Regions from separate parts of the Homo sapiens genome. Here region 1 is linked to region 2. A link means that fine-mapping ties the variant in region 2 to the expression of a gene that starts in the linked region. Tissue or cell type: whole blood. Region 2 holds a variant in brackets; the other region holds the start of a gene. All regions are shown on one strand. Distances are from middle to middle.

Region 1 (4,383 bases), 96 kb before region 2:
TCCTCATTTTACAGAGGAGGAAACCAAGGCACAGAGAGACTAGGTAATTTTTGCAAGGTCACCCAGCTAACAGGCAACAGAATCTAGATTTGAACTGAGGTAGCCTGACACAAGACACAACTATGAATAGAGGCAATCACAGAACCAAGTCAGGGAGGCCAACTGGGGCTTTGCCAAGGGGCTTATCTATTGACTCAGGAGTGGAGAGATGGGACCTAAGCCAGAGCTGCCTCATCACTTTGCCTTTGAATATTTCATCTGTTCATCCATTCAACACAAATGTCCTTTTGTAATACACCTTACATTTGCAATTCACTGTCCAAAACCTGTGCTTGCCACTCCTTGTGGGGCAGATACTGTATCCTCAGCAGCCAGCATAGCCTATAGCACACAGCGCTCAAAAGATATCTGTGAGCCAGGTGTGCTGGCCCTGTAGTCCCAGCTTCTTGGGAGACTAAGGTGGGAAGAACATTTGAGGCCAGTTCAAGACCAGCCTGGGCAACATAGGGAGACCCCCCCCATCTCTACAAAAAAATTAAAAAATTAGCTGGGTGTGGTGGCACACCTGTAGTCCTAGCTCCTTAGGAGGCTGAGGTGGGAGGATCACTTGAGCCCAGGAGCTTGAGGCTGCAGTGAGCTATGATTGCACTTGGGCAACAGGGCAAGGCCCTGACTCTAGTATCTTATCTATATATAGATATAAATACGTAAGTGACTGTGCATGTACATATCAAGCCTACTCTGTGCCAGGCTCTGTGATGGGCACTGAGCATGCAGAAATGAGACACACACCCTGCTCACTGGCCCTTATGGCCAACAAAAGGAGGCAGATGAGCGGGCACCACAAGGAGCAGCACAAAAGAGTGGGGACCTCCATGGTGAAAAGTCTGGAGTGGCTGCACTGTAGTTTATGAGTCACAGCAATAAGGGACAAGGTCCTCAAGGTAGGCCAGAGACAGACTTGAAATTCCTTTCATGTCCAAGGTGAGAAACCTAGCCTCAGCCCTGAGGCAATAGGGAGCCATGAGGCTTTAAGCAGGGTGACATAATCTGAGAGGCCATCTAGAACAACTCTCCTGGTAGTGTGCCAAGGATAGGAGGAGAGAGCCCAGAAGTAGGGAGATTCAGATGAATCTGGGAGGTGTGGGAGCCAAAGTGAAGGGTTTGGAAGAAGAAAGGAGGGGTGGAGTGAGGAGAAACAAAAGAGGTCCCATACCTATTGCATGTGAGCCAGATGGGCCAGGGAACTGTGGGAGGGGAAAAGAGTGGGCCTGAGGTGGCCAGAGTGAGGGGGGCTGGGGAGGGGGACTGGAGAGGGGCCCTGGCCTGAGCTGGGGCAGACAGAGCAGTTGGACGCCAGCAGCCTTGTGCTCATGGCTCAGAAATGTCCCAGGCCTGCCAAGAAACTGCTGCCTCTGTCCCCCCACCAGCCCCAGCCAGGCTCCCACATCAGGAGCTCTGAAACTGTCCCCTCAGCCTTCTGCTCCCCCAGAGCAGGCCTCCCGTCCCCAGAAGCCAGGCATATGACACCCCCACTCTCCCTCAGCCCTCCCCCTCAATGGCTGATGAAACACAGGCCAGGGAAGGAGGGGAAAGAATAAACAGACATCTGCAGGGGGGCCCATCAGGAAGTAGGGGGCAGGCTGCGGCGGGCTGGGGCTGCCTGGGGGCGCCAGGGGGCCCACAGGTCTAGCAGGGTGGGTGGCAGATGGCGGATAGCGGATGGAGTGGGATCCAGGGAACAGTTGGAGCCAGCAGGGAGTTAACGTCTGCAGTACTTTGCCCGACAGGACTAATGAGACACAGGTGGTCCCCTGGCTCCAGCCCCACCTCCCAGCCCCCTGATAGTGTAAACTGATGCTGGTTGTCTGGGGTGGGGAGAGGGGGGTTCTGCAGCTACGGGAAGGGGGGCGGGGCTGGGGCGGCTGGCGGGGGCCCAGCGCATAACTCTGGGCGGTTGCAGTCTGGGGCCGCAGACACCCAGCCACTCTGAGCAGAACTGACAGCATGAAGGTACGGGGCCCAGGGTCGGGGGACTCATAGCATGGGGGAACTGAGCCCACTCCAGAGGCCCCTGGCCACAGAGGGCACTATGAAGGCACAAGGAGTTCTCTTGAAACTCGTAAGCTATGAGGGTACACAGCGTCCCAGAGAGTGGGGTTACTTGGCGGGCGGGGTGGGGGGGCAGGGAAGAGGGGCCAAATAGCAGGAGAGGGATTCAGGCAAGGGCAGTATGTGCATGCATGGTGGGGGCAAATGCAAAGAGAACAGGGGATCTCTGGAGCTGGGAAGGGGCTGTGCTGACCCTGTCTGCCCATCGCCAGGCACTCCTGGCCCTGCCGCTGCTGCTGCTTCTCTCCACGCCCCCGTGTGCCCCCCAGGTCTCCGGGATCCGAGGAGATGGTAAGCAGCCCCACACTCACAGACGCGGCCTGGCCCACAGGTTGTGCAAGAAGAGGCTGGACTGTCAGAACAGACTGTCAGGGCCGAGCCCCAGCTCTGCAGGACTCAGGTTCCTCCTTTACAAAATGGGGCAGATGGATGACATAAGCATTGCTCATCTCCCTTGAAGAAATCTTCCATGACTCCTTGTGTCAAAGTCCCCCAGCCCCAGGGACTGAGGCAAACCTTGGGGTGCTGAGGTGTCAGTGATGCCATAGTCCCACTCTCCTCACTGTCCCCATGTCCCTACCCCCAGCTCTGGAGAGGTTTTGCCTTCAGCAACCCCTGGACTGTGACGACATCTATGCCCAGGGCTACCAGTCAGACGGCGTGTACCTCATCTACCCCTCGGGCCCCAGTGTGCCTGTGCCCGTCTTCTGTGACATGACCACCGAGGGCGGGAAGTGGACGGTGAGTGGGAGGAGGGAACAGAGGCCAGAGCTGGTTCTAATCCCAGCCCTGTGACCCTGGGCTTCACATATGCGAACCTCAGTTTCTTCATCTTTAAAATGGGGATAATGATACCCACAGCACAGCTTCTGAGCAGCTGCCAACGCTTAATTCTAAGTGCCTGAGGTAGGTGTTTGTTTGTTTGTTTTGAGGCGGAGCCTCACTCTGTCATCCAGGCTTGAGTGCAGTGGCTCCATCTCAGCTCACTGCTGGAAACTCCACCTCCCAGGTTCAAAAGATTCTCCTGCCTCAGGCTCCCGAGTAGCTGGGATTACAGGCATGTGCCACCATGCCCAGCTAATTTTTTTATTTTTAGTAGAGATGAGGTTTCACCATGTTGGCCAAGCTGGCCTTGAACTCCTGACCTCAGGTGATCCGCCCGCCTCAGCCTCCCAAAGTGCTGAGATAACAGGCGTGAGCCACCGCGCCCAGCTGAGGTAGGTTAATGCACATAAGCCTCACAATAATCCTGGGAAGTAGTGAGGAACTAAAGCCCAGAGAGGTGAAGTAACTTGCCCAGATCCCACAGCTAGGCACTCGAACTCTAGAACGCCTCCCTCTTAGCCTCTTTCCTGCCTCTATACGAAACTGGGTATGAAGAGCCCAGGTGGGTGCTGGCAACTGCTCCACAGGGGGCCTGGTGCCAATGTGGACGTTGTTTTAGCAACCCCACTCCCACCACCCTCCCCACCCCCAACCCAGTCCTTTAACAAACTGGCCACAGCATCACAGGGTCCATGCTTGAGGTGGGCAGGGCAGGACCAGAACCTTGCCCATTGGACCCTTGATGATCCAGTCTCATCTTCTCTGCTCCAGGTTTTCCAGAAGAGATTCAATGGCTCAGTAAGTTTCTTCCGCGGCTGGAATGACTACAAGCTGGGCTTCGGCCGTGCTGATGGAGAGTACTGGCTGGGTAAGGCAGGGACCAGGTGGGCTGAGGGGCTGCCCCAGGGCCAGGTCCTTGTTGACCAGCTGCCCCTCCTCCCCAGGGCTGCAGAACATGCACCTCCTGACACTGAAGCAGAAGTATGAGCTGCGAGTGGACTTGGAGGACTTTGAGAACAACACGGCCTATGCCAAGTACGCTGACTTCTCCATCTCCCCGAACGCGGTCAGCGCAGAGGAGGATGGCTACACCCTCTTTGTGGCAGGCTTTGAGGATGGCGGGGCAGGTATAACCCGCTGTTAGCTTTGGGAGGGGCTGTGAGGGGAAAGAAGGCAGGGCTGGCCCTGCCCAGTCAGCCCCAACCTCCTTCAGGCCCCTCCTTCAACCCTTCTGGATCTGGAAGGGCCACAGCTGGCTCCAAACAAGCTCAAACCAGCTTGGGCCTCAGCCCTGGGGAGCAGCCATCCTGGCCCTGCTCCAGGCAACTCTGTGGTGGAGCAGCTGTTTCTCTTCATTGCAGAAGCACATCAACCCAACATCTGGCTCAGGGAGGGTGCCCCCATCCCGCCAGGCTGCCACGTGATATCTCTCACAGTCGTCATTGT
Region 2 (4,383 bases):
TACACCGTATTTGCCTATTTTGCAGAAAAAATTTTAAAGCAATTTCAAAAACTGTCAAGTAGAGGAAAGAGAACCAGAGTTCTTCAAAATCCCAGTTCTAATTCTAGCTTCTTCACTTACAAATGAGAGGATTTAGGGGAGCAAGTTCATGTCAGTTTCCTTATTAACCTCATCTGCCCTGCCTACCTTCTAGACAACTGTGAGAAGCAAATGGACTCCTCCTAAGAGAAGGCAAAGGCCCAGGAGAGGTGATCCAGATGCCTTCTGGTTGTGTTGGGCAACTGTCTGACTTTAGCAGCCCAGCCATTCACGAATCACATTCAAATCCCACTTAAAACCCAAGCCCTTGTGGCAAGAACGAGCATCTTTTATACCTGATACTTGGATAGATGTGTCAATAAATCTGCTGCCTCTGAGGGTGTGTTCATGTTACTGATCAGCTTCCTCCATGACTCAATTTTCCACCTGAAGAGATTAACTCTCTCTAGAGTAAGCTAACGCTGACAGCCCTGCTGTGCCTCTGCCCCTGGGACTGACTGCCAGCCGAAGATGCAGGGCTCCCCTGACTTACAGAACACATTTGTTCCACCAAAACAAGATGCCAAATGAGTCTCATCTCCCACCAAATTCCTGGTCCATCCCCAAAACCCAATGGAAGGGCCCTGAGGGCTAGACACACTCCCCACAGGTAGCTATCCCTGGCCTGACACTAGGAAATACCTGGCTGGTGGCCACCAACCACCTCTCAGCCCCGGGCGGGCCCTGCTGCCCTCCTAGTTCCTGGCAGCATCACTCAGCCCTGCACCTTGGAGCTCTGTCACCTCCCACACTCTCAGGAGACCTCAGCTGGCCCAGGATCCTTCCAAGGTCCACCTCAGAAGCACTTCTGACACGCTGGCTGGGTTTGGCTTTTCTTTTTTTTAACAATATATTTTCCCACATCTTTGAGTTTTCAAAAGTAGACCCATGTAGGACTCCCTTTTCAGATGCCTCCTTCTTACCAAAACACTCTCCTTTGTGTGTACATGTCTGGTGTAAGTGCACATGTGTCTGTGTGTGCGCATGCTTCAGCTCTATTCCCAGAGCTGGGCAAGCAGGGCTGAGGCCATGACAACTCTGGTTCACCCCTGAGGTTCCCTTGTTATGAAGACAGCTTCCGTAGAGAGTCCTCTGAGGGCCCACTGTGCCTGGGGACTTCCTGGACATACTCATGAAACAGCGCACAAGAAAGCTTTCAAATTCTACCAAGTCCCCATTGGGTTTAAGAATGAGGCCGGGCGCGATGGCTCACGCCTGTAATTCCAGCACTTTGGGAGGCCGAGGCGGGTGGATCATGAGGTCAGGAGATCAAGACCATCATGGCTAACACGGTGAAACCCCATCTCTACAAAAAACACAAAAAAAAATTAGCCGGGCGCAGTGGCGGGCGCCTGTAGTCCCAGCTACTCAGGAGGCTGAGGCAGGAGAACGGCGTGAACCCAGGAAGCGGAGCTTGCAGTGAGCCAAGATAGCGCCACTGCAGTCCAGCCTGGGCGAAAGAGCGAGACTCCGTCTCAAAAAAAAAAAAAAAAAAAAAAAAAAAATGAATGGCTGATAACCGTGGATAGCCTTGCCATTCCACTCCCTGAGAAATCCTGTTTCCCCTTAGATTCTTGCCAGGCCACTCGAGAGTGGAGGCATGGCCCGAAGGCCTGGCGGACAGCAGCAGCAGCTGTTGGGGTGATGCCGCAGGACAATGATCACGGCCACTGCTCCATGAAGTCCTGGGCAGGCTGCTTGACACTCTGGCCTTCCCAGCTGCACAGTATCAAACCAAATTTGGATCCATCTCTAGCCACTGTATACAATCCTGGCTTTTCTTTCTCACCTCTGTTTTCCTTTTGCCCCAATTTCTTCTGGTATCTATTGAATCCTGTGGCATTGCATGTGTTTTATAAGCCAACTCAAATCCTTTCTAGTAATCACTTGGCAAACCCTTGCCGGGTGGGGTGTGAGAGGAGCAGCCTCAGCACAAGGGGCTCTCAGCCCAGAGGACCAGTAGCCCAAAGGAATCCCTGTCATTTCTCTGGGAGCAGACTTGAAGCATACTACAGCCAGGGCCAGCGGCGTCAGCAAGACAGGAGGGGCCATGAGGAGAGCCAAGAAGACCCGGCTGCAGGCAGCAGCCCCCACCTGGTACAAAGCCCACCACTGCTTACTTTGGTTTCAGAACCCAAGTTGGTTCTGATTCACTTGAGTGAATCAGAAAGCAATGAAGATTTCTATTCTGCCTGCCTTCCTTTTTCTTTTTTTTTCTTTTTTTTTTTTTTTGAGAAC[G/A]GGAATGCTGGGCAGTTAAACTCCCACCAAGAACTGCAAGGTACCAGGCAACTCGGGACTTGCTCAGGGAGCATCAAGACAGCTGTAGCTCTGGCTCCGCAGACTCAGCAAGGGGGCTGAGAACACCAAGCTGAGCATTCCTTCCTTCCCTTACCCACCCTCAACAGAGGCCAGCCAAGGCAGAAGATCTGGCCCCTGGCCTTAGAGTGTCCTTGGTGAGAGGACAGCAGCAATCTTTCTTTCCATTCCTTGACTCAGGAATGCTTTTCTCATCCCCATCTGCCTCCCTTTGATGTAGGTTCCGTCTACCCCAAGAACTTCTGTAATTTCTCCAAAGCCTTTTGACACTGTGGCCAGTTCTGCAGAACAGAACAGGAAATGGTGGAAAGAGCCCGGGGGGCGGGTAACATGTGGGCTGCTCACCCCCACCAGGTTGCAGTTCAGGCCAGCTGCCATCTCTGCGTGATCTTAGGCAAATCCCTCAACCCCCTGGGCCTGAGGGTCCTCCTTTGGGCTGCGCAGCTTCTGCCCACACACAACTGTCCTGAGCACTGACTACATGCCAGGATCATGTGAGGGCAGCCAACACGGGTAAGCCTTAAGAGGAGCCAGCCTTGGGAGGGCAGCTGGTGTGTCTGAAATTACAAGACCACCAAGTAAACATGAGTGCCAGAGGCTAGGCATGGTGGCTCACGCCTGTAATCCCAGCACTTTGGGAGGCCGAGCTGGGCAGATCACTTGAGGTCAGGGGTTCAAGACCTGGCCAACATGATGAAACCTCATCTCTACTAAAAATACAAAAATTAGCCAGGCATGGTGACATGTGCCTGTAATCCCAGCTACTCAGATGGCTGAGGAAGAATAGCTTGAAGCCAGCTAGGCGGAGGTTGCAGTGAGCCCAGATCACCCCACTACACTCTAGCCTGGCCAACAGAGTGAGACTCCATCTCAAAAAAAAAAAAAAAAAAAACCATGAGCGCCAGGTGAGGCCGAACAGCTGACGGCTATAAGCACTGTCCATGCCCTGACAACTTCCAAAGTGTGCCTGCAGCCCAGAATTCTCCCCCCAACTCCAGACTTCTCAGACCTTCTTGACACCTCCACTTGCGTGTCTAGGAGACACTTCGATGTGTCCTGAACTCAACCCCTCCACTAACCTACTGCACCCACAGCCGCCCTCATCTCAGATGATGGCAGCTCTGCCTCCAGCTGCTCTGCTCCCAGCCCTCAGAGTCATCCTCAGCTCCCCTCTCACTCTGCCCAGTCCTCTAGCAAGGTCTGTCAGGTCATCTTTAAAACATACCCAGAATCGTCCAGGTGCGGTGGCTCACACCTGTAATCCCAGCACTTTGGGAGGCCAAGGTGGGCGGATCACGGGGTCAGGAGATCAAGACCATCCTGGCTAACATGATGAAACCTCATCTCTACTAAAAATACAAAAAATTAGCCGGGCGTGGTGGCGGGCGCCTGTAGTCCCAGCTACTTGGGAGGCTGAGGCAGGAGAATGGCGTGAACCCGGGAGGCAGAGCTTGCAGTAAGCGGAGATCGTGCCACTGCACTCCAGCCTGGGTGACAGTGCAAGATTCTGTCTCAAAAAAAAAAAAAAAAAAAAAAAAAAAACATACCCAGAACCTGGCTACTGCCCAGATTTCTGCAGCCCTGCCAGGTCCAGACCCCCACCATCTCCCACCTGGATGGGGACAGTGGCCTCCTGACCTGGCTCCCTGCTCCCACCTTGCCCATACACACCCCAAGGGATCCTCCTAACCCTCATCTTCCCCCATCTCACTGTGAGTGAAAGTCAAAGAAATTTCTGACATAAACCCAGAAGGCCCAGCACCGGGCCACTGAGTGCATGGTCTGCAAGGTAAGCACAGTGAAAGTGTTTCAAAAGCTCCTAGCAATGACATCGGCACAACATCTAAACATGGACACAAAAGGACCCGTCTGGATGGACTAGGAATTCAAGGAATGCTCCCAACCAGACAGAGTTGAGAGGCCCTGCCCCACACCTCCTCCAGGCCCACCTCTGCCACGCTCCACCCCCACATACTGGCCATGCTCCGT

What was found. PIP is the estimated chance that this variant, and not a neighbour inherited with it, causes the effect. A credible set is the group of variants that fine-mapping cannot tell apart.
Region 1: MFAP4 starts here. The variant in region 2 is the best candidate, but not a certain one, in a credible set for the expression of MFAP4 in whole blood (TOPMed, PIP 0.75).

What each region holds. Positions count from the first base shown.
Region 1 is chr17:19,384,780-19,389,162 of GRCh38, reverse strand. It overlaps MFAP4 (microfibril associated protein 4), which reads left to right and starts at 1,973. Exons shown (of 6, transcript NM_002404.3): 1 at 1,973-2,013; 2 at 2,325-2,403; 3 at 2,699-2,853; 4 at 3,709-3,805; 5 at 3,882-4,064. The coding sequence starts at 2,008. RefSeq lists enhancers at 2,048-2,593, 2,594-3,139, 3,140-3,685.
Region 2 is chr17:19,288,628-19,293,010 of GRCh38, reverse strand. The region is part of intron 4 of EPN2 (epsin 2); the gene reads right to left. Among named protein-coding and RNA genes, the nearest start is that of EPN2-AS1, 15 kb to the left of the region's middle. RefSeq lists an enhancer at 2,798-3,391. The variant G/A (reference allele first, on the strand shown) is at 2,317.